Linked DNA regions of Homo sapiens: all the other regions are linked to region 1. Evidence: fine-mapped expression QTL. A gene starts in region 1. Each other region holds a variant in brackets. All regions are shown on one strand. Distances are between the middles of the regions.

Region 1 (2,760 bases):
ATAAACTCAAGGAATGTTTGTAATACATAAGAACACTGAGATCTCTAACCAGATTTTTAGAAATCAACGCCAGTGAAATTTTTGCAAGAATTTACAACGCAAAAAACATAGGCGTGGCTAATAAATGGCAATAGTAATTTGTACCAGATTATAGATTTATAAAGTCCTACAGTTTAAAGGCTAAAGGCTAAAAAAAACCCCACATTCCTACTTCCCTTCCAAGTGAGAAATCAAACCTCCAGAGGGAAGCTGGCTGGGTGGGGAAGATGCTGATATCTGGCACTAGACCCAAGTCGCAATAGCAAGCAACTCTCATTTTCCCAAATTAGAAACTCCTTATCCATCCCAATGATGGTATGGTCTTTAAAAGGACTAATAATTCCATTAAGACTAACCAAGCCCTGTTACCCCTACTTTCCCTCCAATCCATCCTTCTACCCCTTCTCTTCTTATCCGGAGACTGGCAGGTTAACAGAAGTCAGATTAGAATGAATCTCTTATCAGAACCCACAATCAAGGACGCAGCTCGACAACTATTCACATTCATCATTAAGGGAAACGTATCGGTCCGCTCTTAATCGCGGGGCCGTCACACCCGGAAATGAAATCTCAAGCGCAGCCCACTGAGGGCTAACACAGCATTCGTTAAGTTGTGCCCTTCTGCGAGCGCCCGGCGCAGGACCCCAGGAGACCGCGGGCCCCGGGCACGGTTGCCCCGCCTTCCGCCTCCGGCCTGCAGGTCACTCGCGCTTCCCGGCCACGAGGCGGGCCCAGCAAAGACCCCGCGAGGGCGCGCTCCCTGGGCTGCCTCAACGGGCGCTCCGGGGAACACAAGAGAGGCACCGGGGCCAATCGCCTCTGGGGACCGCGCAAGGGGACGAGAGACGGTCACTAGAAGGACCTCTGGCAGCCTGAGGCGGCCCCAGGTGGGCCCGCGCCTCAGGTGGGCCAGGGACGTGGCGGCCGAGGCCGCGTCCCTTCAGCCGCGACCGCACACAGGGACACGCGGCCCGAGCGGGTCTCCCAGGAAGCCTCGGGCCCTCGCCCGGGACCCGCCCGCAGCCACTCGGGGACGGCTCAGGGCACCCGGTGCCCGGCCCCTCAGGGAGGCGCCCCGCCCCCAGGCGGCCCCAGCCCGGCGCGCGCTACGTACCGTGCCCCGCCCGCGTGCCGGTCCGCATTTTCCCGCCCGCCGCGCCGGGGGCGGGGGTCGCGCGCCCTCCCCCGCCCCCGCGCCACTCACCTGTCGGGCCCTAGGCTCGCTCCATGGCCGCCCGCGCGGTGCGGTGCGGCGCGGCCCCGGCCGCCCCCGCCGCCTCCGGGGAGGGGCAGCCCCACGCCGCGCTCACCGCCCCCAGCCGCCGCCGCCGCCACAGCGGCTCCGGCCCACCCCCGGCCCGGCCATTCCCAGGCCACCTCTCGCCGCGCAGAGCGGCAGTCCCACACCCACCCCCCCGCCTCCGAGGCCCCCGGCTGTTGGTACCGTCCTAGCGTAGCGCCTGCCCGACGGCCAATCCCAGCGCTCGCTCGGCGCGGCCCCGCCCCCGCCCAGTAGGCGGCCCCTACCGGACCCGCTCCGGACTGCCCCCCTTAACCTCTTCCATACCGGGCCCGTCCGCTTAACTCCCTCGGCGCCGGCGCCGGTCTCCTGCCGGCCGCGCCGCCCTGCCCGCTTACATAAACTGGCCTCTCACTTCTCACTTCCTTCGCTCTTTTTTCTTTTTCTGTATTTGTCCTCCATCCCCCACCCCGTCTTCTCTTTTTCTTTCCTGCTTTTCTTAGGTAGGTAGGCAGCCAAGCAGCAGGACTGGAGAGTTGCGGTCCCCTAGGTCGAGTTCTGTTTGTGAGAAGCATTTTCCCTCCTCCTGTTGCCTTTTTAATTTGCCTTGACTTCTGCTCGGAACTTCTGCCTATCTAAATGTATCCCCCGCTTCTTTTGCCCAGAAAAAGGCTAGCCTTTCCACACTGAGTGCAAATGGCTCTTCATTCGGACCAGAGCGGAGCGTCCTGCTACATACTTTCAGGAGCATCTCACAAAATTATGATTCATTTACTGTAATATTAGTTGTTTTACATCTGTTTTTTGCTAAGGACCGTAAGCCCCATGAGGGCAGGTCAGTCGCTCCTGGGTCGCCAATGCCCGACCGTAGTGCACCCAGTGGGCGCGGATAAATCGTGTGAATGAAAGATTCTGCCTTCCCTTTGTTTGCTTTCAGCTGACTTATACAGAGCCGCCACTGTGTCCATCCATTTATTCACCATATACTAAAGCGCAAACTTAGTGTGCCTGACCCTGAAATATAATGCAGGTTACTCCATGGAATAAGATGCGTGATGGGGAAAGACTGAGCTGACACTTTTTCTTCAGGCCACATAGTTCATTTAATCAGTAAGGCGTACTGAACAGAATTCTTTCTTACTGGCTGTATGATACTGGATGTGCCAGTTAACTTTGCTGAGCATCAGTTTCCTTAACTGGAAAATGGGAGTTAATAACTTCACAGGGTTGTTGTAAGGATTAAGTTAGGAAATGTATGGGGAAAGTACTCTAAGATTATTGTGTATGATTAGGTGTTATTCGTCTGTATATTTGCTGAGCATTTACTATCAGGAGATCCTAGAGAAATAATTGGGCTTGACACTTGCTCCGGACAATGTAGTTAGGGAGGCAGCATTAATCACTGCAGGAGACGTACAGTCAAATGCAGAAGGCATTGTATTAGCTTTTTGCTGCGTGTAGTTGAAAAGGTTTGGAGGTTT
Region 2 (2,760 bases), 50 kb before region 1:
TACTAGCCTCCCACATGTATTCATGTACAAATGACAAAAACTAGCACAAATATGCTGCAAATAAAATAGTTTTGTTTTGTTTTTTGAGACAGAGTTTCGCTCGTTGCCCAGGCTGGAGTGCAATGGCACGATCTCGGCTCATTGCAACCTCCGCCTGCTGGGTTCAAGCAATTTTCCTGCCTCAGCCTCCGAGTAGCCGGGATTACAGGCGCCTGCCACCACACCCAGCTATTTTTTTTTTTTCTTTTTTTGAGACTGAGTTTCACTCTTGTTGCCCAGGCTGGAGTGCAATGGCACAATCCCAGCTCTCCGCCTCCCGGGTTCAAGCGATTCTCCTGCCTCAGCCTCCCCAGAGTAGCTGGGATTACAGGCATGCACCAAGCTGGCTAATTTTGTATTTTTAGTAGAGAAGGGGTTTCACCATGTTGGCCAGGCTGGTCTCAAACTCCCGACCTCAGGTGACCCACGGGCCTTGGCCTCCCAAAGTGCCGGGATTACAGACATGAGCCATGGTGCCTGGCCCAATAAAAATCTTAAGAGCTTTGCTCAGTTACCTGGTTGAGGTTTATGATGCTGGATTCTATTTCAAAAGTTAAAAATCTAGGTGTCCTAAGAAGTACTACTAGGGCAACTGGCCTTCTCTTCCTGCCTTTTTTGTAGTGTGCTGACAAGTTCTTCAGGATTCATAATTCTTTACCTCTAAGGAAGCTGCAAAAATGGAGTTAACTATTAAATATACAAAAAGCACCTAACAATGATCCCATAGAAAATTTTGGTATAGTTACAATCTAGTATGAACCGTTTGAAGACTGGTGAGGAAATTTAAAGGTCTAATCCACCAGGTACTGTGAAACTATCCCTGTGGAAGTTTAAGTGGTCACAAAAGATGTAATCTTCTTCTGTCCCCTAACAGGAAGGGAACTGAAATAGGAACCACTGGAAATATCCTGAAGGGGGAAAGAAGAGGAAAAGATCAGATATCAATATTTATTAAAATCTTTATTCATTTTCTTTTTTCAGAATTGAAACCCATAGAACACATTAGAAATTTAGATCCATATCTGTCTTGTTTGGTATCTTACCAAGTACAATCTCTGTCTGTGCAACAGCTCTGAGAGGAAATCCTTGGCAGATCAAAAGAGAGGGTAGTGGCTCCCACACTTTCCATTTAAGCAAATAAAT[G/T]AGCTTCTGAGTAGTTGTTCCCAGTTTCACCCAACATTTTGTGTTTATGAGAAACACCTTAGTTCCTAAAAACCTGTGGTAGTCCAGTACCTAGCCCCTACCTTGTCACCACCCAGACTTGAGGAATTGAAGGGAAAAAAACTGGCCTTCCCCTGTAGGATGAGTTTCCCAAGGCCAGATGTGCCTGGCTCACTAGTATGTCTGGCCTGTGCTGGCACACTAGAGTTGCTCAGTAGTTATTCGCTGATGAATGGTCTTTATGTTAATTAGGGTCCACTCTCAGAGACTGAGAACCTTTCACTAAGGTTCTTTCTGAATCCTTCAGAAAGTCAGTGTTCCCCTTTGTCAAAATAAATATGTTTTTCTTGCTAGAATACATATACGACTATATACATTACATATACTTTTACTCATGTTTCCTGAAGCTCAAACTCACAGGATGAGGCATATAAGATAGCTTACTGATGATGCTGTTTTACCATCATTGAGGTGTGGTCATTTACTGGTCAAAGAATACACGGGTGATCGAGAAGAAAGGCTGAAGAAATATGGCGGATGGGAAGGGAAGGGAAGGCAAAAGCATTTTTTTTTTTTAGAAAAAAAAGATCGATTTCTTTGGAAGATAATGCTGGCTTCAGATGACATTGAAAAATTGCCACGTATAGGACTCATCTTTCCCAAAATAATATGCAATTAATGTACCTGAATTCTTCCATTTCCTTCTTAAATTTCATTTGACATATTAACCCTGAGTGCAAACAGGGGGCAATGCCTTATTAATACATTCTTGAATAATACTCTGAGCAAATCAGATCCTATGAATTTGTTTTACACAGAAAATTATTTACATTTCCCCCAAACCCACAATGCAGCCTTACACTAAAGAACAGTTTTATAACAAAACCTTTATACTCAAATTTATCCATTCGAACTTTAGAATAAACATGTTTTAACAAGTTGGAGGAGGGCAGGAAATGGCCATGAGTTCTGATTTTCCTAGTTTTGTAGTATTAAAATGTCTCCACGTCTACCTTTGGATGTTTGGTAGGCATACCTAACTTACAGCTGATCCAAACCCTGCAACGACTTGATTGTAACAGCCTTAGATTCTAATAAATAAAGTAGGACAGTGTTACAAAACTTAAAAAAAAATTCACCTCCTTTTTTTTTTTTTAAGACAGAGTCTCGCTCTGTCTCCCAGGCTGGAGTGCAGCAGCACAATCTCAGCTCACTGCAACCTTCGCCTCCTGGATTCAAGTGATTCTCCTGCCTCAGCCTCCCGAGTAGCTGGGACTACAGGCGCATGCCACCGTGCCCTGTTAATTTTTGCATTTTTAGTAGAGACGGTCTCACCATGCTAGCCAGCCAGGCTGGTCTCGAACTCCTGGCCTCAGGTGATCTGCCTGCCTCAGCCTCCCAAATGCTGGGATGACAGGCATGAGCCACGGCACCCGGCCCCCACCTCTTCTTTCAAACAGTGTTTGAAATTTTAGGGCTTTCTGAATTTTAGAGCTGTAAGTTTATGGTTGGTTTTCTCCAAGATTTGCCTAAACATACTTTTCCAGCTTACTCCAATCC
Region 3 (2,760 bases), 46 kb before region 1:
AAATCACAAGATAAGTCCAGCCACTTATCTGAGAGAGTAAGGTATACACTCTCACCTGTAGGAGTGTCCCTTTCTTATGAGAAAGGGACAAAAAGGTTGCCGATCTCTTGGGAACAGCAGCTTCAGTGACAAAAATGCCTTAAAGGCAGAGGTGGAAATTCATTTCAGAAGAGAAACGAGGATGACAGAGACCACAGGCAACCTGTTATTCAAGGTATTATTTCAGTTTGCTTTGTTAATTTGGGAAGGACTGCTTTTGGCAAAAGGGGAAAAAATTAGTCTCCACAGAGAATCATGCTTAGATTGTAATAGTATTTTCTCTAGAGACAACTTTTTGGTTAATTGGGACACAACTATGAGAATGCAGAATTTACTTAGGTGCAAAGTCATGTTTGCTTTTTATACACCTTAAGATCCTAAATACAAGGGAACCTGTTTTTCAGTAGTTCAGTCATCTCCCTGATTCTGGTTCTACCATTGGGTCTCTCTCTCTTCTTCCCTCCTCTAAGATCATCAAAACAATACTACCCAATGGCTTAAAAGCCCAAACATTTTTCTGTTTTTGTCCTTCCCTCCAATTCTATCTTAAACATGTATCTCCTCTAACAGAGTGTGCTATTTTGGCTTGATGGAATGCAAGGTTTTATTTGCTGCCACTCTGTAGGACAGTAAGCATTCCAATGTAACTAGTTCTGGTAAAAAAAAAAAAGACAAAGAGATTGCAAAGTGTTTCCACAAAATCCACGGGCGTAGAGAAAGGACTGCAAGGTTCAACTCAAAACACATGCTCCAGAGCCAATCCCAGTATTCATCTATCCAAATGTCACACCTGTTTGTCCTTTGGCATGGGAATTAAGACTGACCAACTATGATGCCCAACCCTAGAATGAGCAATTGCCGAGGAGGTGAGAAGGCGATTCAGCAGGAATGTCTCCATGCTCTGAAACTTGTGGTCTTTGCTTTAGTTTCTACTACAGAAAATACCAAAGACATCCAAGGCCACTCTGTCCCGTCACCAGAACTTGCTGCTGGCCACTTCCAATCCATCTCATACCATTTGGAATTGATTGTGCTGTTTCTCTATCTTTGTAAAAAGAAGTTTCACTTATTTTGTGTCGAGAATTACAAGTGTGAGAGAGGCATCCTGTCTTCCACCAGTACTGTGTCCATCCCAAACTGGTCGGTGCACTGCTTCACGGTGGCCAGGACACTCAGGAGCCGCTGGTCCACGGCGTCCAGATGAGGATCAGAGAGCACTGGGGAGATGGGGTCATGGGCCATGGCAGATTTTAAGGCAGACTTTAGCACACCATTCTTTAGGTAGTTCAGTCTGTTCCAGGTGGACACCCGAATGCTGGGAGAAAAAGTTATAGAACAAGGTACATAAAACTTCTCATTATCAAACGGAGTTGAAAGCCTGCTAGGCAGACAAAAGTGAAAAAATAATTAGGTAAAATCCTTTAACTAAATA[A/G]TTTTTGCTTTAGAATTACCCCTACATAATGAGTAAGCCACATTACTATGTTTTGATATTGTTTCTGTGTAACTAATCAGAGATATATACAGAGATTTACACACATGTTCACTGCAGTGCTGTTTATAACAGGAAAAATGTTGAACAATCTGAATGTCTAACGACTGGGAAATAGTTAAATTATGGTTCATCCATTGAAAGGAATACCATGCAGCTGTTAAAAACAATTTTGAAAATTTAGTGGAATGGGAAAATGCCTATGATATGATGCTGGGTGGGGGGAAGAGGTTGGAGGAAAAACCTGTTTCACTTCAAATCTGTAGGAAAACAAAATACACATACATGGATTGGAATGAAGTACACTACAGTGTTAACAAGAGGATCCTTAGACGTTAATCCTTAGACGTTAATGGGTACTATAAACTTCCTTCTTCCTCATGTGTTTCTGAAGTCTAAAATAATTTCTACTGGGAAAAAATTATTATTATTATTTTTTTTTTGAGACAGAGTCTTGCTCTGTCGCCCAGGCTGGAGTGCAGTGGTGTGATCTCGGCTCACTGCAAGCTCTGCCTCCCGGGTTCACGCCATTCTCCTGCCTCAGCCTCCTGAGTAGCTGGGACTACAGGCACCCGCCACCACGCCCGGCTAATTTTTTTGTATTTTTTAGTAGAGACGGGTTTTCACCGTGTTAGCCAGGATGGTCTTGATCTCCTGACCTCGTGATCCGCCCGCCTCGGCCTCCCAAAGTGCTGGGATTACAGGCGTGAGCCACTGCGCCTGGCGGAAAAAATTATTTTAAGGATACCTATCTGCCTTATTTCACCAACTGCTACCATTTGAATGTCTGTCCCCTACAAAATACATGTTGAAATTGCCATTGTAACAGTATCAAGGTAGAGTCTTTTAAGAGGTCGTTAGGCCATGAGTGCTCTGCCCTCATGGGTGGAACTAATGCTGTTATTAAAAGGCAAGTTCAAGGCCAGGAGCGGTGGCTCACATCTGTAATCCCAACACTTTGGGAGGCCGAGGTGGGCCCTCAGGTTGGGAGTTCAAGACCAGGCTGGCCAACATGGTAAAACCCCGTCTCTACTAAAAATACAAAAATTAGCTGGGCGTGGTGGCAGGTGCCTGTAATCCCAGCTACTTGGGAGGCTGAGGCACAAGAATCACTTGAACCCGGGAGGTGGAGGTTGCAGTGAGCCAAGATTGTGCCACTGCACTCCAGCCTGGGCAAAAGAGCAAGACTCCATCTCAAAAAAAAAAAAAAAAAAAAAAAAAAAGGCGAGTTC

Alleles and levels. Alleles are on the strand shown, and positions count from the first base shown. SD is a standard deviation of normalised expression in the study named. Not every link is listed here.
With allele A in place of G in region 3, the expression in vagina of the gene that starts at base 1,448 in region 1 is lower (small effect, 0.34 SD a copy in GTEx).

The links.
Region 2: its variant is fine-mapped to the expression of FAM20B in whole blood (INTERVAL, PIP above 0.99).
Region 3: its variant is fine-mapped to the expression of FAM20B in vagina (GTEx, PIP 0.94).

What each region holds. Positions count from the first base shown.
Region 1 is chr1:179,024,582-179,027,341 of GRCh38, reverse strand. FAM20B (FAM20B glycosaminoglycan xylosylkinase) reads right to left here and starts at 1,448. Exons shown (of 8, transcript NM_014864.4): 1 at 1,244-1,448. RefSeq lists silencers at 662-1,401, 1,442-1,631.
Region 2 is chr1:179,074,788-179,077,547 of GRCh38, reverse strand. It overlaps FAM20B (FAM20B glycosaminoglycan xylosylkinase), which reads right to left. Exons shown (of 8, transcript NM_014864.4): 8 at 981-2,760. Among named protein-coding and RNA genes, the nearest start is that of TOR3A, 5.9 kb to the left of the region's middle. The variant G/T (reference allele first, on the strand shown) is at 1,183.
Region 3 is chr1:179,070,507-179,073,266 of GRCh38, reverse strand. It overlaps FAM20B (FAM20B glycosaminoglycan xylosylkinase), which reads right to left. Exons shown (of 8, transcript NM_014864.4): 8 at 1-1,354. The coding sequence ends at 1,123. Among named protein-coding and RNA genes, the nearest start is that of TOR3A, 10 kb to the left of the region's middle. The variant A/G (reference allele first, on the strand shown) is at 1,472.